Linked DNA regions of Homo sapiens: regions 2, 3 and 4 are each linked to region 1. Evidence: fine-mapped expression QTL. A gene starts in region 1. Each other region holds a variant in brackets. All regions are shown on one strand. Distances are from middle to middle. Region 1 holds the start of PIAS1 (protein inhibitor of activated STAT 1). Region 2 has its middle 70 kb from the start of PIAS1. Region 3 has its middle 13 kb from the start of CLN6. Region 4 has its middle 84 kb from the start of PIAS1.

The links. PIP is the estimated chance that this variant, and not a neighbour inherited with it, causes the effect. A credible set is the group of variants that fine-mapping cannot tell apart.
Region 2: its variant is the best candidate, but not a certain one, in a credible set for the expression of PIAS1 in uterus (GTEx, PIP 0.57).
Region 3: its variant is the best candidate, but not a certain one, in a credible set for the expression of PIAS1 in whole blood (INTERVAL, PIP 0.88).
Region 4: its variant is the best candidate, but not a certain one, in a credible set for the expression of PIAS1 in tibial artery (GTEx, PIP 0.71).

The regions. Positions count from the first base shown.
Region 1 is chr15:68,050,419-68,057,104 of GRCh38, forward strand. PIAS1 (protein inhibitor of activated STAT 1) reads left to right here and starts at 3,897. Exons shown (of 14, transcript NM_016166.3): 1 at 3,897-3,932. The coding sequence starts at 3,909. RefSeq lists a silencer at 3,696-4,195.
Region 2 is chr15:67,980,350-67,988,597 of GRCh38, forward strand. No RefSeq gene overlaps it. Among named protein-coding and RNA genes, the nearest start is that of PIAS1, 70 kb to the right of the region's middle. The variant C/A (reference allele first, on the strand shown) is at 3,430.
Region 3 is chr15:68,238,129-68,246,376 of GRCh38, forward strand. It overlaps a transcript of CLN6 not described here. Among named protein-coding and RNA genes, the nearest start is that of CLN6, 13 kb to the left of the region's middle. The variant A/C (reference allele first, on the strand shown) is at 2,874.
Region 4 is chr15:67,967,850-67,972,849 of GRCh38, forward strand. No RefSeq gene overlaps it. Among named protein-coding and RNA genes, the nearest start is that of PIAS1, 84 kb to the right of the region's middle. RefSeq lists an enhancer at 644-1,560. The variant G/A (reference allele first, on the strand shown) is at 2,071.

The sequences.
Region 1 (6,686 bases):
ACCCAAACCATATCATATATATATATACGTATATATATATATTCATATATATATACATATATATTCATATATATACATATATATGAATATATATATTCATATATATATTCATATATATGAATATATATATGAATATATATATATATAGCAATGTCATATTTTAAAATGTGCATGGAATCATAGAATGCCAATTTTCAAGTGTTCTCAGCTTTATAGTGAATAAAAGTAGTCACTTCCAGGCAGGCCCAGAAGCCTCAAGATATTAGATATTGCAGGCAAAGTCTGATGTCTGCCTTGGTTTGACTTCCTAACATCAAGAGGTTTTTAAAAGTCCAGATTTGTTGTCACAATTTCCAGCAAAATAAATTTAAAAGAAGCCTATGTGGTTATTCTTGCCGCACTTATGTAAATAATCAGGTCAAGTTTGAAACTAAATTAATTTTAAAAATAAATTGGTCTTACCATGATTATCTTTGGTAGAAATGGGAATGACTGTAGAGAGAAAAATTATGTTTCTGAAGAAAACCATAGTACACCTGTTACTAGATTGCAGCTTTGTTCATTGTTTTTGAGTTTTTATCATCTATCTATAGACTAGCCTGGATCCTGAGTTCTTGTTGCCTTCAATATCTGACTGCAATTCTCCAACCATGAACAAAAACTGCTAAGCTGAACAACTCGATATAAATTTCAAGGGACAAGTCCCATGCTTGATGAGGGAGCCACATAGAGAGTTTAGCAGAACACCTGATGCCACAGCCAGAGACATTTAAACTGCAAACCAGGATGAGAAATTGCTGACATCATGTTGTGGACAGCGTTTTCCAAGACTGTCAGAATAAGACTCGCTACCATGATAAGACTCCTTCCCTTCTTAATTTTTTCTTGCTTATGCCCACCTCTTCCACTTGGCAGGATAATGCTGTAGTTAAAATTTCACAATTAGTAGTTTTTGTGGGTAAGTTGATAAAGGGTCAAACCCAAACATTTACAGGACCCAAGAGAGCTTTTATTCCACCTAGTGGGTAACTTTAGCAACATCCCTAATGCAACTGTTTGTTCAAATTTTACTAGTGGCCTCTTTTGTAGAGTTAGCACTCTTTGCTTTAATTTAACCCATTTCTGAGATGCTAGATGATAGAATTGCTGCGTACTAACCAAACGGGGAAATCTGTGCTGTTGCTGTCACTTCTTGTTGTACATAAATAATCTGGTATTGTAGAGACTCAGTTTCAAAAAGTTAGCAGGCTACTTGGTGAAAACAGGTAGATTTCTCATCTGGCTCATTCTTTGATCTATTTGATTTTAGTTGGTTTGGTTTATGGCAACCCTAGCTAAGAAGCATACTCCGAACTCTTGGCATTGTCCTCCTGATAGTCACAATTCTCAATTATGTTCTCTCAAAAAGTTTTACATATTTGCATACAGCCAATTGTTGAATGTCATATGGTCTCTCTTCAGCTGCAATGACAGAAATACAAAATCATGAGGACACTGTAATCTATAAATGATGTGTTGAGACTGGAAACACAGAATGATGTTAAATGAGGGTAGTGCTAATGCCCTCAGTCTTAGTCACAATTTCACCTAGGTTGTTAAATAAAAATCATGGGATGCCATTGTTTTCAACCAAATTCCTGCATCAGGCCTCCAGATCAGACTAAAAATCAAAATGGTGTCACCCATGTTCACCAAAACAAAACTGAGTTATCTGGTTTTCCAAAAAATGGTAAGAGAGATAGCCAATTTTCCAAACAGAAGTTTCAATCTTTAACAGGCATGATAATGAAATTTCCTGTTTTAATCCTTAAAATAGAATACCTGAAGTAACCCAATGTTAACCAATCAGTTTTCTTTCTACTGTTCTGTCTCCACGTCTCCACCTTAAAGAAAAGTGACTTTGATATAACCAATCTGCTTTTTGTTGTTTCTGCCTTCTTCAGTCTATTTTCTGTCTCTAAAGTTAACATCCTCTGCTTGATTCATTGCAACATTTATTCTATTTTGTGGAATGAAGTTTTGTCCAATTCTAGGAGTGCAATAATGCCAATGAGATCTTGAATCTCAATTTGTTTTACTTTTGTTTCTTGACAATGGAGAGGTTTAGGCTAGAGAGCATTTTCAAAGTCATGAGCATATAGACTTCAAGTCAACCAGTTAGATGAGATCACCTGGTGATAAAATAGAGAAGAATGCAAGGACCGAGCCCTGGAGCAGTCCAACATTTAAAGATTGAGCCAAAGAGGAGAAACCAGCATATCAAAAAGGAGGCCCAGTGAGGGAACAGGACTATCTGTGACGTGTAGGTAAGTTCAGGGGGAAAAGTGTTTCAAATCAAAGGAACCATGTCAATTATTCGCGATTCTACAGAGAGGTCAATTGAGATATGGATAGAGAATTGGCAATTGCCTTTGGAAACAAGATCATTAGTAATCTTGATAAGTGATACAGATGATGGAAGCCAAAGCTCGATCAGGGTAGACTGAGAAGTGAATGTGAAGTGAGAGGTAGGAACAAGCACTATTGGAGAGATCTTGAAAAACCTTTCTAAGAATTTATGAAGATAGCAGAAAAATAGGGCAGTTCCTAGAGGCGATTTTGGAGTCAAAGGAAGTTTATTTTAGATGGGAGAAATTTCAATATATTTATATGCTGATAGGAGCAATTCAATTGAGAGGGAAAAAACTAACGATGCTGGAGGGTAGGTAATTGTAAGAGTAAAATCCTTAGGAATGTGCGTGAAAAAAATCCGGTCACTGGTAAAGGGACTGGCCTTCCTAGGCGCAGGGACACTTCATTCATAGCAACCCAAATGTTACTATGCAGATAAGGGTGGTTTTGATGGTGAGAAGATAAGGGAGTTTATTTCTGATATCTTTCATTTTTTCCATGAGTTATGAGGCAAAGTTGATTAGTAAAAGTGGGGGTTGGGGAGGAGGTATATAGAAGGCTTTCAGTAGAGACGAAAAGGAATGAAATAATCCTTCCATCAAGTCTACTTAAATGTCAATTTAGTGGATAAAACCCTCCCAGAATTAAGTACATCTCCCAAACCCTTTCTCTCTCTCAATGACCTTTTGCTCCTTTCTGGTACTCACTAACATTTGCAATTGTATCTTTGTTCGTTCACTTCTCTGATTCCCCATTAGAGAACTACAGAAGGGCACGGACTTTGATTTCAAAATGTATATTTAGCCGTTAGCACAAGGCAAGCAGATGGTCACTAAATAAATACTTTTTTAAACAAAAATGTTAATGAACACCTTCAAAATTTTGTCTTACGCCACCTCGTTAAAATACTTGTTTGTGCAAGTCACTTTTCCTCTCTGAGCTTTCATTTCTGAATCTATACCATGGGAATTATCTCTTCCTTGCCTACCTCCCCTCGTTATCAAGAGGATCTGAGCCAATAATGATAGAAATGCTTCATTAAGGGCCCCTTAAATGTAATGGATTTCTATTTTTAGCCCACTGGTAGCCTCGCAGGTAGCAGGTGCTGAAAAAGCCTTGCTTATTGGGGGTTGGGGGACAGCATTGTTTCTGTGACCGTAGGCGTCGAAGCTATGCAGAAGCGTTCCGCGGACCGCAGAGAGATGGGGCTCAGGCCAGCATCCCTCTCGCTCCGGCCCTTCCCGGGAGGAGCTGGCCGAGCTAGGATGGGGGGCAGGGAGACCGAGGGGGCAGTAACTGTCAAACCTCGCCGCTTGGCGCCATTATTTAAATGGAACGTGCCTGTCTCGCAGCTGTACGTGCCCGGGGCGGGGCTTCGAGCGCCCTGAGCGGGGCGGAGGCTAGAGGCGGGCTGGGAAGGTGGAGGGGCGGGCCGGGGCGGGGCCAGGCCGGCTAGAGGGGCGGGTCTAGCGGCGGCCCCCGGCGAAGTTCACTGCGCTTGCGCTGACAGACGCAAGATGGCGGACAGTGCGGAACTAAAGGTAAAGCGCAGCTCGAATTCACTTCTAATATTCGGCCGCGGAGACGGCGCCGCTGCTGCCAGGGGGGATGGGTCCGACCCTGGGGGGCCTCTCGGGCCTGACTCCACCCGGGCCTGGAGTTGTAGGGAGAGAGGCGCGCCCGGTCTCAGCAGAGGGGGCCCGCCTGCGGCGGGCCGCGGGCCCCGGGTGCCTCGGGGGCGCTGACGGGTCGTCCCCGGCGTGTTATTGTTGTGGGCGCCTCTGGCGGGGGTGGCGGGGGAAGAGATAGGGAGTCCGGAGGTAGGGGCTGCAGCTGTCTCATGGGCTCGGCTTTTTCACCTTCCAGTTAGCCTCCCTGCCCCCCATGGGGAGCTGGGGCTGGGGGCAGGGTGCTCTCGTAGGGGGGATTGGGAAAGCTCCCCGTGGCCGCTTCCTCTTCCTCCTTTGCAGTCCCGGGCTCCTGTCAGGCGCTCTTCTCAGACCCCCGGGAACTTGGCTTCGGCCGCCCCGCCCCTCCGTGGATCCCAGTAGCCCCCGCCCCGGACTCGGCTTTCCCCGGCTGCTCGCTTGTCAGGAAGCGCCTGGGGTGCCCCGCTTGTGGGAAGCGCGATCCCGGGGCGATAGGGTGGGGATCTGGGGGAGAAGCTCTGGTAAAGTTTAGCGAGCCCCGGGCCGGCGTTGGGGTTCGGCTGAGAGGTAGTGAGCGGGACGTTACTCTTTCTCTCTGATTCCGGGCAGCCGAGGGGAGAAACCCCCTCGAAGAGTGTGTCTTTGGAAGCAGTGTTGGGAGGGGGGGATGCAGCTACCTCTCTCCCTTCTTTTGCCTTAGCTGGTGTGGAGGGTGAGAGGAGCCTTTGGGGGTCTCTGCACACACCATGATGGCGATGCTGTAGCTGATGGAGGTGAATGGTTCGTGTTTATATCCCCCCATTGCCTTTTGTTTGTAGGGACATCTTGCTGGCCATGTTGATTTGAACGAAATTCTCCCCTCATGCTACTCCAACCCCCGATAAATAGAACGTTCCTCTTAACAGTACCAATTACTCACGCCTCACGAAATTAGATGAAAGGGTGCCCCCTTTTCCCCGCTTTTCTCCCACCCCAATCTTTACCTGATGATGGCTTCTTTACCGTAGCAGATATACCACTACACAAGCAGTTGGGGGAGGGGGTGGTGGAACCCTTATGACTGGATTGTGACAAATGGGGCTCCGCTTGAATAATTTTGGTTTAGTAGCAGGCAGTTCTTAACTAACGCGTATTATTTCGAGGCTCTGAACGCGATCTTCTCTGTGGCTTCCTGTGTGTGTGAACCCAGCAGCTGGTTATGTCTCGACCCAGAGAACTGACATCTCTGTCAGAGAGGAGATGGGGATATACAATTGTAAATCTTTGGGGAGAGTCTTCTTTTTATAATAAATAAAAATTATTTAATTTTTTCCCCGTTATAATGAAACGACAACTTCTAGAACAACCAAATGCCAGATTTGATTCTGTAGAGTTTTTCCTGTGGAATATCCTCACCGAAAGAGCTTTTCTCCTAATAACTTCACAATGTTTACACTCCAAGATTCGTATGTTAAGGTATTGGCTTTGAGTGTCATTCTTTTAAAATGTACTTCTAATTACAAATTTACTGAAGGGAGAGCAGATTTACAATGGATGGTTTTGATTTTTCCCCAGTTTCAAACTATTGACTGAAATGAGAAAGCCTTAGGAATTTGAATATTTGGAGATAATTAACCCTTGAAATAAAAAAAAGCACACAACTTTAAGACATGTTTTCTATAATTTTTCTCTTAGAGTCACTATGTTGCTGTGATCTTTGCCTTGTAATATTTATTTTGTTAGGAGTTCTTTTGAATGATAGCTAATCAGTTGTTATACATGGACCATAGAATAAAGCTGAAAAGCATGTGCAGACTATATTGTCACTCTTGATGCTGTCCAAAGAAACTAGTATGGAAAGCACATGCTGAGAGATTTCCTTCTTTGTTCTTTCTCATTTTAAGAAAGTGCCTTTGGGGATAGATCAGATCCCTGGTGTGAGTCTTGTTAGGTAAAGTTTCTCTTTACGAAAATGAACCAGTATCAGATAAACACCAAACACTTGAAGAAATGTTATTTTTCTAAAATTAATCTCGTTTTTTGTGCTCTCCCAAATCTACTAGAGTTTTTCCAGAGGAAGTTTTTTTTTTCTACTCTTATGTTCCTGTTGTATAATTTTTCAAATTATAATAACTGTTTTGACATGTTGGTATGTCATTGTGTGTGTCTGAGACTTTGAGGAGCTGTGTGATAAATTGCTTAGCTGGTGATAGCGGCGTTAAAAAAATTTGGTTAATACTTTATTGTGGTTAGATTTGCTGTTCTTTTTTTGAGGGGTGGAGGAGGTGATCTCAGGAACGCCTACCATAGTTATTTGAGAATGTGTTAAAAAAAAGAGAATGTGTATATATAATTTTCTGTGCAGTAAGGTTTGGCAGATACTCCTTTTGGAAATGATATTTTCTGAAGGCTTTTTGTTTGTGATTTTTTGGAGGTAAATATCATACATTCCTAATATGATAGGAAAAATCAGAGTAAGAAGAAAAAAATCTAGATTTTTTGAAATTTTAAATGGGAATAGAGTACTTCAACTGTGAAGCTTTACATAAAACTCAGTGACTTTTCATTATTTTAGGTTTCAGCCCCATACTTCATTTTGCTGTGGATTGTATTCATAATTATTTTCCTCATGGCTTTTTTAGTGAGTCCTTTTAAATCTATAAGAAA
Region 2 (8,248 bases), 69 kb before region 1:
GGAGGATTGCTTAAGCCCAGGAATCCGAGACAGGCCTGGGCAACATGATGACACCTCACCTCCACAAAAAATACAAAAACTAGCCAGGTTTGGTGGTGTATGCCTGTGGTCCCAGCTACTCAGGAGGCTGAGGTAGTCGGACTGGTTGAGCCCAGGAGGTTGAGGCTGCAGTGAGCTGTCATCACACCACTGCATTCAAGCCTGGGTGACAGAGTGAGATTTGTCTCAAAAAAAAAAAAAAAAAAAAAATCCTTAATACATACTTGATTAATGTGAATTGGAATAACTCAATCATGTTCGTGCATATTCTCATTCATTTCATTTAAAAGTTTTGCTAATTTGAGGAGGAAAAGGGAAATTATATTTCATGTGGTTTTAATTGGCATTTCCTTTATCCCTAGAGGGGGTGATTTTTTTTCTCTTAAGGTAGTGGATTTTGTAAGTGTCTGCTCCTGGTTCCTGAGGGGATTTGTGACAGTCACATATTCCTCTCAGGGTTGGGAACAGCAAAGCTGTTTGTAACTTCTAAGAAGTAATACATGGTGATTATCATACTAGAACATGCAGTCAAATCACTTGTGACATATCCATATTACAGCACAAGATTAAATCGACAATTTATTTAGACTCCTAGAATGAGAAAACACAATGTCCCCAGGGAAGGATAAAGAGTGGGTGACAGAAGGAGGTAATTTCTTTGCCTGCTTGTTTACCTACTCCCCTCTTTTCTTCCTCCCATCTCTCTTCCTTATATTATATGCATATATAATATATTGTATATAGATATACATCTAATGTGTACATTCTCATATATATTATAATTATAATGGAATTATAAATAGTCCACGATAATATAATATATGCATGACGTTTCCAGGCATCAAGAAGATTTACAGCTATAAAGCCAGCTGTCTTTCCTCTGGGGCATATACTGTAGTGAAGGCAAGAAGACACATGCCTCAGGATTGCAATGCAAGGGGGCTAAGCTTGGCTTCAGCACCTTTACAAGCATTCTCACCTTACCTACCAACCTGAGCTCCACCTTTTCTCTGAAACCCTCCTTGCTTTTCTTGCTCAGCCCCTTGCTGTGCCTGGAATTCCCTTATCTTATTACCTCTCATCTAACCTAATCATCCTTCAAGGGCTGCTCAGATGCCACCTCCTCCAGGAAGCCTTCTCTGATCCCCCACTCTTAGATGCAAGGCTGTCTCTTTCTGCACGCTCCACCTCTCCAATGGGCTTGGCACTTTAAACTTGGCATTGTGGCTGTTGCTGTACTTGTCTTGTGTCCTCAATTAGTTCTAAACTCCTAGAGGGCAGGACCTGATCTGATGCAGCTCTGTATCCCCATGTTACATACCTCAGCTCCTAGCATAGAAAAGGCAAACTGTAAATCTTCTGATAAAGGAGAGAATGAACACATCTATACAGTGTCCTTCAATTTCACAGTTTTCCCACATTATCTGCAATGTGTGCCTTGTGTGTACCAAATGGGTAAATGTTAAATGAGCACCCCTCGGTGACTGCACAGAGGTTGGTCCATGGGCAAGTTCCCAAAATGAAAGCAGGAACTGGGCATGTGAGTGTAGAATGGGCACAGGACTGGGAATCAGGAAGGTGCCGGGTTTCTACCCCAGCTCGGCCTCTACCCAGCTGTGTGACCTTGGAAGTTCATTGCCTCCCCTCTAGGCTTTGGTCTACCCATCTGTAGAATGGGACTTGGGGGTGACCTCCAATGCAAGGGTCTTTCCTTCTTACACATTCACCCTTCTAGCACAGAGTGTGTGTCAACTGCCCTGGCAGCCCCTGAAGGCTCAGTATTCAGAAAAGAGAAAGTAGCTGGGAGATACCAGGGCTGACATGTGCTCTCTGTTTTCTAGAAGGCTATGGAGCTTCCATAAAGATATATTTCATGTGAAACCTTTCCCCTTTTAGATTTCATAAGTTATTTTATTTACATACACTTATATACATGTGGCCTGTCTTAAAAAGTTATCATGAATGAAAGGCAACCCTCAGGCACAGCCCAGAAGATTAACTGTCAAAATGTAAAGATGAGTTCATTTTCTATGGAAAAAAATGTAAATGCATAAGAAAGGACAGAGAAGTTTCCACACCTAACTAATAATAATGGTCTCCTTTGGGGAGGTGGGGAGGAAACTGAGGTTAGGGGCTCCAAAAAAACTTTAGTTTTATCAACATTCAATTTTTTAAGGAGGATATGCATATAATTTTATGATTAAAAATTAAATAATGAATAAGTTAAAAGGCCCAAGTGGTATTTAATGCTGCACTAATATAATTTTGAGTCTTGATACCTGTAAGGGTATTTATCTTTATTTTTATTTCCCCAGTTCCCTCTCTCTCTCTCTCCTGTCTAAATGTGAGGATTGGAAATCATTTCTAGCAAGAAGAGCTTGATTAAATAAAGGTGCTTGATATGGTTTGAGTCTGTGTCCCTACCTAAATCTCACGCCAAATTATAATCCCCAGTGTTGGAGGTGGGGCCTGGTAGGAGGTGTGACTGGACCATGGGGGTGGGTTTCCCATTTGGTGCTGTTCTTGTGATAGTGAGTTATAAGATCTGTTTTTTGTTGTTGTTGTTTGTTTGTTTATTTGACACAGGGTCTCACTCTGTCGCCCAGGCTGGAGTGCAGTGGCACGATCTTGGCTCACTGCAACATCCACCTCCCGGGTTCAAGTGATTCTCATGCCTCAGCTTCCCAAGTAGCTGGATTACAGGCGTGCGCCACCACACCCAGCTAATTTTTGTGTTTTCAGAAGAGATGGGGTCTTGCCATGTTGGCCAGGTTGGTCTCGAACTCCTGGCCTCAAGTGATCCCAAAGTGCTGCAATTAGAGGCATGAGTCATCATGCCCGGCCAAGATCTGGTTGTTTAAAAGTGTGTAGCATCTCTACCGTCTTTTTCTTTCTCCTGCTCCAGCCATGTAAGATGTGCCTGCTTCTCCTTCACCTTCCCTTATCATTGTAAGTTTCCTGAGGCCTCCCAAGCCATGCTTTCTGTACAGCCTGTGGAACCATGAGTCAATTAAACCTCTTTTCTTTATGAATTACCCAATTTCAGGTATCCCTTTATAGCAGCACGAGAATGGACTAATACACTGCTTTAATTTACAAGAACACTTTGCAAGAATTAGGACTCCTATCTCCTAAGATTATATATTTGCATGGAAAAGAAGCAGGTTGCTTGAAGAAAAGAATCAAGAATCAAAACTTTGCAATGAAGGATAAACTTGAAGTAAGAATAATAAAATAAAGAATGTGGCTGGGCACAGTGGCTCACACCTGTAATCCCAGCACTTTGGGAGGCCGAGGTGGGCGGATCACAAGGTCAGGAGATCGAGACCATCCTGGCTACCATGGTGAAACCCCGCCTCTACTAAAAATACAAAAACAAAATTAGCCAGG[C/A]GTGGTGGCAGGTGCCTGTGGTCCCAGCTACTTGGGAGTCTGAGGTGGGAGAATGGCGTAAACCTGGGAGGTGGAGCTTGCAGTGAGCCAAGATCGCACCACTGCACTCCAATTCCAGCCTGGGCAACAGAGCGAGGCTCCATCTCAAAAAAAAAAAAAAAAAAAAAAAAAAAAATGCAGTTCAGGAAGAGGAGGTTGCAGACATACTTACAGAAGAGGTACCATGTTTTCTGGGACTGGGCATCAAGCCTGCTTCTGAAAGTCCTGGCAGCCAGGGAGGGAGAAAGAAAAATGCGATTTCTTCCATAATGCTTCTCATCAGAAAGAAGAATGCATTATAATTATACTGAGGGGCAAAGCTTGCCATGATATGCTAAAAGAATTTTATGTAGGTATCATTATTATTGTCCCACGAAGAAACTGAGGCTCAGAATGATTTAGCATCTTGCCTAATATCCCCTAGACAGCAAGTGGGATGGCAAGATATTAACGTGGTGCTTTTCCGTTAATTATCTTTTTCAATCCTAGTGACAGCAGTAAGAAATAGGCATTATTGTCCCTGTTTTAGAGATAAGGACATGGTAGCTTCCAAAGGTTGATGTGCTCAAGGGCATATAGGGAAAAGGCAAACTTGGATGCAGGCCCACATCTTAGGACTTCAGTGCCAGGAGTTCACAAAAGGCCTCTGCAGCACCTCCTCTCCCATTATCATGCCCTCTCTACCCCTCCAAGCCCCTTTGTCCAAATACTCAACTGCTTGCTATTCTGCAGACACACAGTCCTTTTTGCCTACAATTCCCCATCACTGGAGTGCCCGTCATCACTGCCCTTCTTGGAAAAGCCTTCTCATTCTTCAACATCTCAATCAAATTTCATTCTTTCTTTGCTCTCCCTTGTATTCATGATCATAACATCATTTGAGCACTTCTCAGTATGCACTGTAGTTTTATATTTTAAAAGTATTGTTAGCTGGGGGAGGTAGCTTAGGCCTTGTAATCCCAGCATTTTGGAAGGCCAAGGTGGGAGGACTGTTTGAGCCTAGGAGTTCGAGGCTAGCCTGGGCAACGTAGCAAGATCATCCCCATCTTTACAAAACATTTAAAAATAAACCAGGTGTGGTGGTACATGCCTGTGGTCCCAGCTGCTCTGGAGGCTGAGGTGGGAGTATCACTTGAGCCTGGGAGGTAGGGGCTGTAGTGATCTGTGATCACACCACTGCACTCCAGCCTGGGTGACAGAGCGAGACCCTATCTCAAAACCATTGTGCTGCTTTTTGAGTTGCCATCTGCCATGGAACAATCACCGAAATGCATATTTTCATAAAAAGTTTTACAGAGAAGACCATCCACTCTTGAGGTTGAACCCTCAGATATGATGAAACATGCAAAGGTCAAGATCAGGAGAAGGAAGGAATTCCTCCTGATCAGCCTTTGCTGATCTTTGTTGGCAAGCACCTGGGAGATTGTATTCATCCGTTCTCATGCTGCTGTAAGGACATACCTGAGACTGGGTAATTTATAAATGAAAGAGGTTTAACTGACTCACAGTTCCACAGGGCTAGGGAGGCCCCAAGAAACTTACAATCATGGCAGAAGGGGAAGCAAACACGTCCTTCTTCAAATGGCGCAGCAAGGAGTACAGAGCAAAGGGTGGGAAAAGCCCCTTAAAAAACCATCAGATCTCGTGAGAGTTCACTATCATGAGAACGGCATGAAGTTAACCACCCCCATGATTCAGTTACCTCCCACTGGGTCCCTACTATGACACGTGGGGATTATCGAGACTACAGTTCAAGATGAGATTTGGGTGGGGTCACAGCCAAACCATATCAGAGATTAACATGCTTTGTCTGTCTACCACATTTGCAAAGAGTGCACTCTCCATCTTGTGTTGAGATTTCACAATGGTGTTAAGAAAATGAAGTCTTGTTGGCCGGGCACGGTGGCTCACGCCTGTAATCCCAGCACTTTGGGAGGCCGAGGCGGGCGGATCACGAGGTCAGGAGATCGAGATCATCCTGGCTAACACGGTGAAACCCCGTCTCTACTAAAAATACAACAGATTAGCTGAGTGTGGTGGTGGGTGCCTGTAGTCCCAGCTATTCGGGAGGCTGAGGCAGGAGAATGGCATGAACCCGGGAGGTGGAGCTTGCAGTGAGCTGACATCATGGGCCACTGCACTCCAGCCTGGGCGACAGAGCGAGACTCCCTCTCAAAAAAAAAAAAAAAAAAAAGAAAAGAAAATGAAGTCTTATGCAACTCCCATGGAGACCAAAGAGAAAGAAGGTTAAGCTGGCTGTCCTGAAATACCATAAGGTGGATGAGAATGGCAAAATTAGCTGTCTTTGTAGGGAGTCCCCTTCAGATAAATGTGGTGGTGACATTTTTAAGGCCAGTCACTTTGACAGACATTATTGTGGGAAATGTTGTCTGACTTATTGCTTCAACAAACCAGAAGACAAGTAATTGTGTATGAGTTAATAAAAGACATGAACTAAGAATAAAACAAAATAAATAACTCTTGTCCTCTCCAGATTCTGAGTTCTGTGAAGATCTGGATTTTATCTGAATCATCTTTATATGTCCAGTGCCTAGCATTGTGTCTGGCACATAGTAGGTATTCAATAAATGTTTGCTGAATAGATATGTAATATCAATGAAACTGCCCTTGTCCTGGATGGTGAAAGGCACACCATGACATTTGACAGTATGCCTATCCCAGAATAATTTATAATTTCATTGAAAATATGAGAAGTGACACCCATGAAGAAATTAGAGAACAAAATAGGTATAGTCAGATGCCATATTGTGTGGTTTAAATTCTGAGTGCTGAGGGGGAAAAGAAAGATGACATCTTTGGGGTGCTAGAGGGGGCTTTGGGGATGTGAACCCCCAAGGTGTGGGATGAAGTTCCCCCCTGTAGTAGGTTCCATGATAGCTATGCAACAGCATTAGTTGCTCAAATAAATTGAAGAAAGGCTGTTTCTTTGATACATTGATGGGCAGAGTGACTCTCAATGGGACCATGGAATCTTAGACCCTTTAGTAAGAAGGATAATAAAAATTGTTTTGCCAAACAAAAAAGGAAGGGGAAGCCCAGAGAAATTCACCTCTGTTGATTTCAACCAATGTTCTTTTTGTAAAATTTAATTTGTGTAAAATGTTTAAATGCATGATTTAATTTTTAATGCATGATTTAAGTTTTAATGCATGATTTAAATTTTAATAATTAATAACTTTAATGTCTATGATTGAAGGTTAAAATTTGATAAGCAATTTAATTTCTAAGCCTGATATTTCTATTTTCTCATAAAGTAAAATATGATGGGATTAAAGGCAGGACAGACTCACCCTTCCTGGTTTGTGATTGAGAAGGTCACCGATGGTCATAATTGCCTCCTTTTTTATGTGCTGTTGCCCTGCTAAGACATTTCTTGAAACACTTCATACTGTACTCACCCAAGGTTTCTAAAGCTGTCAATGTCAATTGCTTTTGTTCTTACCCTAACACATGTTGTCACATGAGAAACATAAAGCCTTTCTTGTGAAGATAAGGTGAGCTATTATGGGTGCCTAAAAAGACTTGGAGATTAAGGATACCCTCTATGACAGTCAGGTCATGGCAAGAAGCAGAATGCACCCTAGATGGATCAAATGAAGACACTTGAAAGAAAAAGATACTTACACATGAGCCGATAATAGGGCACCAACAGTGGATGTTAGGGCACTCAGAGACTAGCATCTGAGGGATGGGGGGAGGGAAGCTGTTATTACCCTTATATCTGAAGGAACAAGGAGAGTAAATAGTGTTACTGGAGCCCAGTATGAGCTGCACCAGGAAGAAAGGAACCACCCAAGAGGAGCTGTAGGTATGGGGGGTGGCAAATACTGCCAAAGACAGGCATGACATCAGGGAGACGGAGAGGGAGAAAAAGATTTGATCTCACTCTCTTCCTGTCCCCAGTCTCCTGCTAATGTCCCCTCTGGCCATACCCAACCAGAAATGAGCTGTCAAGGGAGGCCAGGAGGTGCATCCACAGAGGTCAGGCTTTGTGGCATGGAGCAGGGCAGAGAAGAGCAGAGAATAGATCTGAGTAGGGTGTGTGTGTGTGTTGCCAGGGAGCAGGGGGTGGCCAGCCAGGATGTTCTGAGAGCCCAACTAGAAAAAGCCGCACATGATGGATGCCATCAGCTACTCTGAAGCAACTCTAGTCAGGTAACCAAAGGTTGAGCAGACCCAGGATTCCACTCACAGTGCTTTGGATATTATTCTTGGGAAGCAGAACTGGAATATAATTTCAGTTAAGGAACTCTGATTGAAAATTAATTGCATTGTACCCAATCTGGGAGTTGTAAGAACTCTCGGAGTTTGGACAGCTGGGGTGAGAAGGCTCGGAGAGCAAGAATTTGGCCATGTGTCTCCAACACTATCCAGGGGAGAAGGTAGGCTCACTATAAATCCCCTTCAAGCCTTCCCCCAAAGGGGAGTGAATGCATTAGACTGTCATAGCTCAGTGATATCTGCCATGAAGACCATTCGTTTCTTCTCATGGCTCTGATTCCAGAGTCCCCAGAAGCCTTGTGTTTCGCATTTGACTTCTCATAAAGCTCTGTGCTGATTAGCCCACAAAGGGTTCTGATTCTCTTGACAGCTATAACTCATTGTAAATTAATAAATTGGCGTCTGGTGTATCTGATGAACTAGAGCATTCTGAATCAGGGCTTTACATCTCCTCAGTCACCTCCTGCTTCATCTTCAGGGAACAGTCACACCTAGAGTCAATAACTCAGTGTCTGAAGCTCTGATGAGGAGTACCACA
Region 3 (8,248 bases), 190 kb after region 1:
AAAGAAGTGGGTCACGCCTGTAATCCCAGCACTTTGGGAGGCCAAGGCAAGCAGATCACGAGGTCAGGAGATTGAGACCATCCTGGGCAACATGGTGAAACCCTATCTCCACTAAAAATACAAAAATTAGCTGGGTGTGGTGGCACGTGCCTGTAATCCCAGCTACTCGGGAGGCTGAGGCAGGAGAGTCACTTGAATCAGGGAGTCAGAGGTTGCAGTGAGTCCAGATCGCGCCACTGCACTCCAGCTGGCGACAGAGTGAGACTCTGTCTCAAAAAAAAAAAGAAAAAGAAAGAAACCCACATCTGGACATGGTGTAGAGAAACCACAAAGCTCCAAAAGCAAAGATCTTAAAAGTAGCCAGAGAGAAAAGAAACCTTGTTTACAAAGAAACAAAAACTATATGGTGGCAGCAACAGTGAATTTAGAAGACAGAAAAATATCTTCAAAGTGTTAAGAGAAAGTTAACCCAGAATTGTGTGCCAGCAAAACTGTCTTTCAAAAATGCATGTAAAATAGAAACATGAAGGTGAAATAGGAACATTTCAGAATAAAACCGAGAGATTTTACCACTAACAGGCCTTAACTAAAACAATTTCTGGAAGATATACTTTAGGAGGAAGGAAAATGATCGCAGAAGAAGGGAAACATTTCTAAAAATATATAACTTATCATTGCAATGCAAGAAAGAATGATGAGCAAATCAATTATTAAGTATGTAAATAATTCCAAAAATTGTCTGCAAAAACTTATAATGAAAGGTGATGATGGTGTATAATTTGTGGGGTTAAAAAAGGACAGAAACAAATACTGGACAATAATATTTATAGATGGGGGAAGAAGGCCCGAGGTTGGTGGGGAGAGTTAGACTATTCTAAGTTCTTTGTATTCTTCTTAGAGAAGGTTCAAGTATTTGTTCACTTTAGATGTTGTTAAATGTGCATGGTAAAATTTCAAGGGTAATCACTAAAAACAGAAAATGTGTAACTTCCATACCAGTAAAAAGTAAAATAGAATAAGAAAACAAAAACCCAATGCAGAAGAAAAAGGAAAAAAATAAGTTTAAAAAAGGAAAACAAATGGAAAGCCAAAAAAGGGTATGGTAAAAATCTAAATATATCAGTAATCACAATAAGTATAAATGGACTAAACAATAAACTAAAAGACACATTCTTAGACCTAAATTAAAAAAAAAATAGACATACCTAAAATAAAAGGACACAGAAAAGATGAAAGTAAAATGATGAAAAAAGATATAACAGGCAATACTGTTAGGTTGGTGAAAAAGAAACTGTGGTTTTTGCTATTACTTTTGTGCCAACCTGAAGTTAAAAGAAAGTTGGTGTAACTATATTGTCATTTGACAAAATAGACTATAAGAGATAAATAAGGACTTTATACAATGATAAAAGGTTTTATTTATCAGGAAGATGTAATAGTTCTAAAGTTGTGGGTACCTACTAAAATAGCATCCAAATATATAAAATAAAAATTTATAGAATTATGAAATGAAATTGACTAATCCACAGACATAGTGGGGTATTTCAATACAATGCTCCCAATTATTGATGAGTCAAGAAAGATTTGAATAACACAATTCACTAGCTTAATTTAGTGAATTTAGTGAATAAATTACCTTGCATTCAACAATCAAGGAACAGGCATTCTTTTCAAGGACACTTGGAATATTTTTAAAAATTGACCATATAAAAGGCCATAAAACCAGCCTCAACAAATTTCAAGAATCTGATTTACATAAACCACATTTTATAATCCACAATCATAGATTTAACTTAAGCAACCAAATTAGAAGTGCATAAAAGAAAAAGAAGTGACACATCCACTAGGTTTTGGAAATTAGGAAGTATACTTCTAAATAACTTGTAAGTCAAGTAAGGAATCATAAAAGAAATAAAAAGTTGAACAGAATCAATGATAAAAATTACACTTATCAGGACTTATGGATGCAGGAAAAATAGTAATTCAGGGAAATTTATAGCTTTAGCTGCTTTCATTAGAAAAGAAAAAAGACTGAAAATTAATAAGCTAGGCTTCACTGTAAGAAGAAAAAAACTCCCAATAGAATAAACCCAAAGAAAGCATAAGGAAAGAGATAATAAATATAAAGGAAAAATTAATGAAGCAGAAAACAAACATGCAATAGAGATGATCAACAAGCCAAGGCCAGGCCAGGCGCAGTGGCTCACGCCTGTAATCTCAGCACTTTGGGAGGCTAAGGCAGGTGGATCACTTGAGGTCAGGAGTTTGAGACCAGCCTGGCCAACATGGTGAAACTCTGTCTCTACTAAAAATACAAAAAAAATTATCTGGGCATGGTGGCACATGCTTGTAATCCCAGCTATTTGGGAAGCTGAGGCAGAAGGATTGCTTGAACCCAGGAAGCAGAGGTTGCCCTGAGCTGAGATCGTGCCACTGCACTGCAGCGTGGGCAACAGAGCGAGACTCTGTCTAAATAAATAAATATATACATAAAATAAAATAACAAGCCAGGGGAGGGCCAGATAAAATAGATAAATGTTGGGCAAGATTCCTTTAAAAAAAAAAGGGGACAGGGCCGGGTGCGGTGGCTCACGGCTGTAATCCCAGCACTTTGGGAGGCCGAGAGAGGCGGATCACTTGAGGTTGGGAGTTCGAGACCACCCTGGCCAACGTGGTGAAACCCTGTCTCTACTAAAAATACAAAAATTAGCTGGGCGTGGCGGTGGGTGCCTGTAATCCCAGCTACTCAGGAGGCTGAGACAGGAGAATCGCTTGAACCCTGGAGGTGGAGGTTGCAGTGAGCCGAGATCGCACCACTGCACTCCAGCCTGGGCGACAGAAGGAGCCTCCATCTCCCAAAAAAAAAAAACAAA[A/C]AAAAAAACACAGTAGCATTCACAAATAAGCAAGAATATGAATGAAGAACAGAAGAAAGCTGCAAATATGGAAGAGATGAAAAAGATAAACATGCCATAAATAACATTATGCTAGTAAATTTCAAAATTTATTAGAAAGGGAAACATTTCTAAAAACATATAACTTATCAAAGCTGCATCAAGAAAGCCTGGAGACTTCCAGTCCAAAACTGGTGGTGTAGAAGCAAGCTGGCTACATTCCTTCCCACAGAAAACCAAAAACAAATACACAGTGCTGAGATGATCAGCACTATGCCAGCAATATTCCAGAACCCAAATATGAGGATGAGGCAGTTCCTGGAGTCATAGAGAAGTGAAAAAGCTCTGAGCAGTCAGTAAGATAAATGGATTTCTACATCCATGACTCCCCTCCCTATAATCTGCCCAGCACCAAGTGTGTGGGAAATTTCCCGACTCAACGATTTCTGCACTGGAAAAAGTGAGATTGAGGTGGACGACTAGCTTTTCCACCATTGTGGGTTTCCTGGCAGGAGACCTTGCCTCTGCCTCAACCCATGGGAAGCATCATGATTGCCTGAAGGAAGAAATATCTCTGAGGACACTGAGAGACCAAGGAGGGAGGTGGGGATACTATCCCTAGCCCTAGAAACATGGTTCTGTAACTCGGCCAAAGAAGACACCAAATCAGAGTGGCTGTTAGCAGCACCACACTGTAGCAGCTGCATTCCACAGGTCTCCTGGGCACTAATCCCCAGCCAGCCTATCCATACTGCCAGGATATCTGCTCTGGGACCTCCCCCATTTGGAACTTCAGTGTTCCAATTGTTTATTAGAGCCGAGGCAAACCTGGGCTTAAGAAATCATCTAGTGCCAAAAAGGAGGTAGTGACCTAGTGGAAAATAAACAAACAAATAAGAAATTCAGCAGTATATTACAAAGACTCTATAAGCAAACATACCCAATAAAAAGCAAAACAGGCCACACAGAGAAGACTAGAATAAATAAATAATCCTTCAATGCAAAGATGTAGATGTATATCCACAAGAAATAACAGGAAACAGGAAACCATGGGCACCCCAAACAGACAAAGCATGGAACCAGTGATGGCCCTAAGAAGATGGCAATATGTGAGCTCTCTGACCAAGAATTCAAAATAGCAGTTTTAAGGAAACTCAGTGATCTACAAGATAATACAGAAAATCAATTCGGAATTTATTAAATTTAACAAAGATTGAAATTTTTAAAAATCAAATCTTGGAACTGAGAAATACATTTGCTAAATCAAAAAATTCATTAGAGACTCTCAACAGCAGAATGGATCAAGCAGAGGAAAGAATCCATAATCTCAAAGATAGGCTATTTGAAATTACATAGAGGAGAAAAAAGAAAAAAAGAATACAAAGGAATGAAGATTGCCGACAAGATATGGGAAATTGCCTCAAAAGATCAAATCTAATAATTATTGGTGTTCAAGAGGGAGTTGAGCAAGAACAAGGGGTACAGAACTTACTTAAATAAATAATAAGGAGACTCCATCTCAAAATAAATAAATAAATAAATAAGGAAAAGAAAAATAAGTGCTTAAATAAAATATTTTGTCAGAAAAATAGAAACTAATGCCTTTTTGTTCACGTGACTTTAGTAACCTTTTGGAAATAAAGACAGTTTTAAAGATTATTGGTAAAATAAAATGTCTTGAAAGTGTAGACATTTGGTTTAAATTAAGGTCAGATATCAGACTTGCTAAATGCTTTAAGGTCAAACTGTTTCTTTGACTTTTGAAAATGGTTTGATTTACCTACTTTGGAGCATTAGATGATAGGTAAGGCCTGGGGACATGTGGAGAGCCATGCCCACCAGCTATGCTAAGAGTCAGACCTTATCTTCATTTCTGTCTAATGTCCTAAGCTCCACCCCAGTACATAATTGAAATTGCTTACTTACCAGGTTTTTCACTAAAAATAAAAGTTGCTAAGCGTTAACATTGTAATATGTAGTTGAGACGACTGCAGAAACAGTTTTATATACAAGGTGTATGGGGAATGTGCTTTTCGTAAAAGACTGTAAGAAGTCACAGAAATACGGCTTTTGTTAAAGGGAATGTAATTTTGTCTAGTTCAGAGGGTTTTAAACATTGTCCTAACCTAAAAGAGTAATGGAACAAAACTGAAGGTTTAAGCAAAGTGAAAAGGGTTTGTAAAACCCTTTTAAAATTCTGTGAGTATAAACAAGTTGGCTAAGATTTAAAAGGAATTATTTAGCTTTTTTCCTTAGGTTAAAACACTGAAATCATACTGATATGGGGCCAGAATCTCGGCCTACTTTTCCGAATAACAGAGTTTTCTTAGAAAATTAATCTGCTGTTTGATGGAAAATTGTAAAGGGTTCTAAAAAGTTCATGAAAATCTTACCTTATGGTCAAACTAATTAAGACTGGATAGATATAAAATTTTATTTAAAAAACTAGCTTTGGCTGGGTGCGGTGGCTCATGCCTGTAATTCTAGTGCTTTGGGAGGCCAAGGTGGGTGGATCACCTGAGGTCAAGAGTTCGACACCAGCCTGGCCAACATGGTGAAACCGCATCTCTACTAAAAGTACAAAAATTAGCCAGGCATGGTGGCATGCACCTGTAATCCCAGCTACTCAGGAGGCTGAGGCAGGAGTATCGCTTGAACCCAGGAGGCAGAGGTTGCAGTGAGCCGATATTGCGCCACTGCACTCCATCCTGGGTGATAGAGCAAGACTCTATCTCAAAAAAAAAAAAAAAACACAAAAAAAAGGATGGGCATGGTGGCTCACGCCTGTAATCCCAGCACTTTGGGAGGCTGAGGTGGGCGGATCACAAGGTCAGGAGATCGAGACCATCCTAGCTAACACAGTGAAACCCCGTCTCTACTAAAAATACAAAAAAAATTAGCCGGGCCTGGTGGCGGGCGCCTATAGTCCCAGCTACTCGGGAGGCTGAGGCAGGAGAATGGAGTGAACCCGAGAGGCGGACTTTGCAGTGAGTTGAGATAGGGCCACTGTACTCCAGCCTGGGTGACAGAGGGAGACTCCATCTCAAAAAGATCAAAAAAACAAAAAACAAACAAAAAAAAAACTAGCTTTAACATTAAAGATGCACTAATGCAAAATAATAATAATAATAATAACAGAAAACTTTCCAAAGCTCAAGAAAGTTATAAATATCCAAGGACAGAAAGATCAGAGAACACCAAGCAGTTTTCGCCCAGGTAAGACTACCCTAAGGCATATAATAATCAAACTCTCAAAAGTCAAGGACACAGAAAGGATCCTAAAAGCAGCAATATAAAATAAGCAAATAACACATAAGGGGATTCCAGTTCATCTGGCAACAAGACTTCAACAGAAACCATAAAGCCAGGAAGGAATGGGACAGCATTTTCAAAGTGCTGAAAGAAAAAAAAAACTGCCATCCAAGAATACTATATCCAACAAAGCCATCCTTTAAATATGAAGGAAAGATAGTCTTTCTCTGACAAACAAAAGCTAAGAGAATTCACCATCCCCAGACCCGTCTTAAAAGAAATGCTAAATGGAGTTCTTCAATCTGAAAGAAAAAAACACTAATGTGCCAAAAGAAAACATTTGAAAGCATAAAACCTACTGGTAAAATTAAGAACAAAGACAACCCCAGAATACTCCAATACTCTAATTAAGATGTAAAATTCACTCATAACTCTAATATAAAGCCTAGAAGAGAAATCTATCAAAAACAGTAGCAGCTACAGCAACCTGTTAAGAGACAGGCAATAGCGGCCAGGCACAGTGGTTCATGCCAGCACTTTCGGAGGCCAAGGTGGGTGGATCACTTGAGGTCAGGAGTTCGAGTCCAGCCTGACCAACATGGTGAAACGCTGTCTCTACTAAAAATATAAAAATCAGCCAGGTGTGATGGTGCACACCTATAATCCCACCTACTTGGGACGCTGAGGCAGGAGAATCACTGGGTTGCAAGGAGCTATTGTACCATTGCACTCCAGCTTGGATGACAGAGCAAGACTCTGACAAAAAAAAAAAAAAAAAAGAGAGAGAGAGGCAATATAAAAATATGTGAATTGAGACAACAAATAGTCAAAATGTGGGGAGATGGAGTTAAAGTGCAGAGGTTTTTTTTTTTGGTTTTGCTTTATTTCTGCTCTTTTTTGTGATCTAAGGTAAGTTATCATCTCTTTAAAATAAGTTATCGGTTTTTTTGTAAGCACCATGGTAACCATAATGTTAAAACCTATAACAGATACAATAAAAATAAAAGGTGGCCAGGCGTGGTGGCTCATGACTGTCATCCCAGCATTTTGGGAGGCTGAGGCTGGCAGGTTGCTTGAACCCAGGAGCTTGAGATGAGCCTGGGCAACATGTTGAAACCTCATCTCTACAAAAAAAGTATAAAAATTAGTTGGGTGTGGTAGCACATTCCTGTAGTCCCAGCTACTTGGGTGGCTGAGGTGGGAGGATCACCTGAGTCGAGGGAAGTTGAGGTTGCAGTGAGCCATGATTGCACCACTGTACTCCAGCCTGGGTGACACAGTGAAACCCTGTCTCAAACAAAACAAAACAAAACAAAAAACAACAACCAGAAAATAAGCAACAAAATGGCAGTAGTAAGTCCTTACTTATCAATAATACACTGAATGTACATGGGTTATTCAATGTTATTATTAAGTTTAATTGGAGAATTCAGTCAATTCTCTAATTAAGAGACAGACAGTGGCTGAATGGATAAACAAGGCCCAACTATATGCTGGGTGATATTAACTAATATGTTATTATCACATGAACACAATGAAGAATAAGAAACCCAACTTACCAATAGAGACACACATAGACTGAAAGTGAAGAGATGGAAAAAGACATTCCATGCAAGTGGAAACCAAAAAAGAACAAGATTAGCTATACTTATATTACATAAAATAGACTACAAGTCAAAGACTGTAAAAAGTGACAAAGAAGATCAATATATAATGATAAAGGGGTCAGTTTAGCAAGAGGATATAACAATTATAAGTATCTATGCACTCAACACTGGAGCACCCAAGTATATTAAGTAAATATGAATCAACCTAAAGGCAGAGATAGACTGTAATACAATACAGTAGGGGACTTCAACACCCCACTTTTCAGTAATAAACAGATCATCCAGACAGAAAATCAACAAAGAAGCATCAGAATTGAACTACACACTAGACCAAATAGGCCTAACTGACGTTTACAGAACATTTCACCCAACTGCTGCAGAATACACATTGTTTTCATAAACACATGTAACATTCTCCAAAATAGACTATATCTTAGGCTACAAAACAAGTCTGAACAAATTCAATAAAGTAGAAATTATATCAAATATATTTTCTGG
Region 4 (5,000 bases), 83 kb before region 1:
ATAACTCCGTGGGAAATTATACCCCAGGGCCCTTTGCTCCTGACTCCCCACGTGGAGCAGAGAACCACTCAGATGCGTGCTTCCAGCCCCCACCTCGGACGACCCGCTGTCCCCCTCTCACGGCTGTTTGCCCGGGCGTTCTAGGATGCTCTGGTATTAGAGCACCCTGCCTGTTCCTGGCCCCCTGAGCACCAACAAGCCCGTCTCAGGCCTCCAAAGCTCTGCATACGTTGCCCTGGCAAGGTCAGACCCTTTGGCTGCAACACGTCCGTCAAGAAGCCAGGCAAATCTAGCATGCAAACTAGGATCATTTTCGGGCGTTGGGGCCCCCCCGCTTGAAATCTGGTTTCCATGTTCACAAAACGCAGCCCGACTGGTGGAACTCGCGACTCCAGACGCAGAGAAGCTGTGGGCAGAGGCGGAGGCAGAGGGTGGGAATGCAGCCTGGCGTTGGAGTGGGGAGAAAGGGGAGGGAGGAACCGCGCGCCCAGGCCCCGCCCGGTTGCCTAGGTGACGGGGAGCGAGAGGAAGAAGTGGGGGCTGAGCTGATCCGAGCATTTCAGATCTTAATACTGAACAGCTCAGCCCCCAAGAGGGAGTAGGATGGAAGCCCCAAGCCAAGGGAGTCATCTTCATTATTTTACCCTGGTACCTAGTGTTCTGCTGCTCATGGAGAAACAGAATGTCAGTCCTGGAAAAGAGCTTGCGAAGTCTCCTTGCCCAGTGGTTTTCAAGCAGGTTTGTAGCTAAAGATTCTCGTTTCAAAGAAAACCTTACCAAGAACCTCAGTTTGCGAAACAGACCTATAGGGAGCTAAGTCACCCCACTTCACCTTCCCAGATTGTGGAAAAACTCTGGTCTGGGCCCAAACCCTCCTTGTAGAGATGGGAAAACTGAGGTCCCCAGACAGGCACTGCATTGCCCAGGGACACCCAGGACATAAATTCGCTGCAGAACCAGGATTGGAAACGATCTCCCAGTGATCACCATAGAGCAAGCATGAAGAAGCGGATCCTTTGAAGTAGCTGGGAAGAGAAAAGGCACACAGGATGTTTTAGGAACCTGGAATTTCCAGACCTGCTGAGACAACACAATCCCCTTATTTTACAGACGAGGAAACTGAGGCCCAGAAAGGAGGCAGTGGCAAGTTAGTAGAGTGGTCCTAAGTGGAGTAATATTCCCTTAGAAAGAAGATGCATTTGAGCATTTGGCTTTTTGGCTAGCTCAAGCAATAAATCTTTGCTGAAATTCTGAGGTGCCAGATGGCGCAGGGGAGGAGCACTGGCCTGGGAGTTTCATCCCCCTCTGTTACTGACGAACCCCATGACCTTGGGAGATTTATTTTAAAGAGTCAAAGGGATCATCCCCAGGTTTGTAAGAGGTCCAGAAGAGTAATAGGATTAAATGGTGCTTCAGAGTGTTTTATATTGTTTCTAAATGTCAGGGCCTCTTTGGGGGAAGGGAAGTAAGCACACTGCTCTTTAAAGACTGAATTTGACAGTGGGTTTTTTAAACGCTCTTTATTTTTCTTTTTCATTTTTCATGGCTAATTATAAAGTAACACATGGCCATTTCAGAAAATGTGTAAAGTACAGAAAATGAAAGGAAAAAAAAGCAGAAAGGAAAATCACCCATAAACACATCACCCAGAGGCAACCATTGTTATACATTGTTGTACATTTCCTTTCAGTCTTTTTTCTCTAATTTTTTTCTTGTGCAGCGTAAATTGTATTTTTAATTATGTTGTAATTTTTAATAATTTCATTTAATTGTTTAATAATTAATATTAAACTTAGAATATTAAAGCTAAAGATCTGTCTGATCACCACCCACAGCCCTGGGTTCTTTGATGTATTAATTTTGCAGACCATTTAATTTTTTTCCCACTTATTTACACTCATTTTTCATTTATTTATACCTATTTCATTTATGTAGACCCACAGGAAATGTACAGTGTAATAATAAATGTATATATATATATTATATTGTATATGTGTTTTACACAATGGTATAATGTTTTCTCTGCAATTTGCTTTTTTCTTTTTTGCTCATTTGACACCTATATTATTC[G/A]ATCTTATGTATAAGCCACTTTGTATCTACCCATTTTGTTCTTGATGAGCATATACATTGGTTCCAATTTTTTGCTACTGTGATAAATTCTACAATGAATAACCTTTGCATGTTCTTCTGCACAGGGGCTAGTGTTTCTCTGGTGGTAGATGCACGGAAGTAGAATTGCTGAATATGCATTTATTTACTTTTAATCCACACTGCCAAATTGCCCTCTAAAGCTACTGCGTATAATGAGCATCCTTGTTAGCTTATAACACTGCTTTGCTTGATTATAAGACTTCACTTTTTTAAAAAAACTTAAATTTTTTAGAATCTACTGAGTGAAAATAATTTATTTTTGTATGATTTTCCTGATTATTAGTATGATTAAGCATATTGTTTACTGGCTATTTAAAAAATTAGTTTATAGAGTTGCTTTATATATTTAGGCCACTATCTTTTTTTCTGTATCTATCACAAGCATTTTCCTCAGTCTGCTGATTATTTTTTAATCTTGTTTGCAATGTCTTTTGACATGCAGAATTTTAAATACTTAATATGGCAAAATTTATGTATTTTCCTTTATAGATTTTTGTTTTTTGTTCAAAAAGATTTGATCTACGTTTTTCACTAATAATTTTAAGTATCTATTTACTTATCTTTTTTTTAAACATTAAAACATTGACTCCATCTGGATTTATTTTGGTGTATGTATGTGATAGGAATCTAATTTTGTTGCTTTGCATATGGGTCGTTAATTGCTTTAATACCAATTATTGAATAGTCTTTTTTCCACTGATTTTGAATACCACCTCTATCATATACCAAATCCCCATATAAACGCAGATCTATTTCCTGACCCTTTACTCTTTTCCATTTATCCATTTATCTCCTTTTCTATTTTTATGCAAATACTACACTGTTTTGACTATTGATTTATAATGTATCTTAACAGCTGATGGGCAATTTACCCACTTTTTCTGTTTCATTGCCTTGGTTCTTCCTGTACATGTATTCTTCCATACGAATTCATTTATGAAGGTCTGTGAAAAGTCTTTTGAGTAATTTGATTGTTATTGCATCAAATTCATACCTAGATTTTGAGAAATGTATCTCGAATATAGCGTCTTTCTATCCAAGAATCTGACATGTTGATTTATTGGGTCTTTTAAAATGTGTTTTAGTCAAGTTTAAAATCACCTTCATAAAGATCTTTTACTAAAATTTTTCCTAAAGACTTTATAGTCTTTGTTACTATTGTTTTTTTCCAATTACATTTTCTCATAGCTTATACTTGTAAGTAGAAAGGCAATTAATTTTGGTACATTGGTACTATTAATTCTGACAGTTTGTTCATTGGTTCTTTTAGGTCTTCTAGAGAAGGCAACCAAATCTCATCTGTATATAATTAATGCTTTGCTTTGTCTTCTTCTCTTCTAATATTTATATGTCTATTTTGGAGGTAATCTTATTGCATGAAGTTGGGTATGATGAAGAAGGGGAATAGTGGGTATTCTAATCTTGCTCTTGACATTAATGAGAATACATCTAATGATGTACCTTGTTAGTAGGCTCAGTGCTGTAACAGAAAACTCCAATACCTCAATGGCCAAACACAACATACTGGATTAAGGTGGGCCCTAAATCCAATATGACTGGTGTTCTTATAAGAAAAGAGAAATTTGGACCCTGAGACAGACACACAGGGAGAATGCCATGTGATGACTGAAGCAGAGATTGGAGTGATGTGTCTATAAGCCAAGGATTGCTGGCAATCATCAGAAGACAGTAAGAGGCTAGGAAGCCACCTCCTTCAGTGAGAACATGGTGTCACCAACACTTTGATTTCAGTTCTAGCCTCCAAAACTATTAGACAATAAATGTCTATTGTGTTAAGCCACACAGTGTGTGGTAATTTGTTATGGCAGCCCTAGGGAACCAATGCAAAAGCTAAGTTAATTCATCATTAGTCTTTCTTGCTTTATAGTAAGTGCAAGTAAGTTTATATATTTCCCTGAAGACTACTTTAACGTCATCTTAAAGTAGTACTTCAGTTAATTCTAATTTTATTGTAGTTTTTTGTCAACTCATTAATTATTTAGACCTGTGTTTTAAAACTTCTCGGTGTATACAAATTTCTAGCCATCTTCCTGTTGTTGTTGACATAAAATTTTATCATTAAATGTTTTATATTATTTCACTTTACTTACTTACTTATTTTTTGAGATGGGGTCTTGCTATGTTGCTCAGGCTGGACTCAAACTCCTGGGCTCAAGCAATCATCCTACCTCCTCCTCCTAAGTAGCTGGGACTGTGCCCAGCTATATCACTTAAAAAATTTTTTTGGAACTTACTGTGCAGTTAAATACTTAGTCAATACTTAGTCAATTTTTATAAATGTTCCATTTGTATTTGTGAAGAATGTACATTTTCTATTCAAAGTTCTACATATATCCATTACATTGACAGGTCGTCTGTTCTTTGCTGTGTTAAAGACTAGCTAATTGATGAACAAACTTGTTCCCCTTCCTCCTGGGCACACAACTAGGCTACATTTCCTGGACTTTTTGCAATTAGATGTGGTCTTGTACTGAGTTTTGGCCAATGGAGCATGAGCAGAAATTATGTGTGCCACTTCCAGGCCCAGCTTACGTGTGTTTCTCCTTTCTGTCTGTCACTATGAATGCCAAGATCTCAACACACAGAGTGACCTTGGCAACTACATGTTGAAGGTGGCAGAGTTTCTATCAGCTTGAATTCCTGGCAGAGACCCTTCCTCCGTGCCCCACAACCAAACATTGAACTTTACGTGAAAAAGAAATTAACCTCGATTGTCTAAGTGTTCAGCTACTCTTAGTTAAAAGTTTATTTGCTACAGTTGCTAGTGTGACTTAAACTAATACTGTTTTGCTCTTTAGATACTCTATACTTTTTTGTCTTCTTGATTT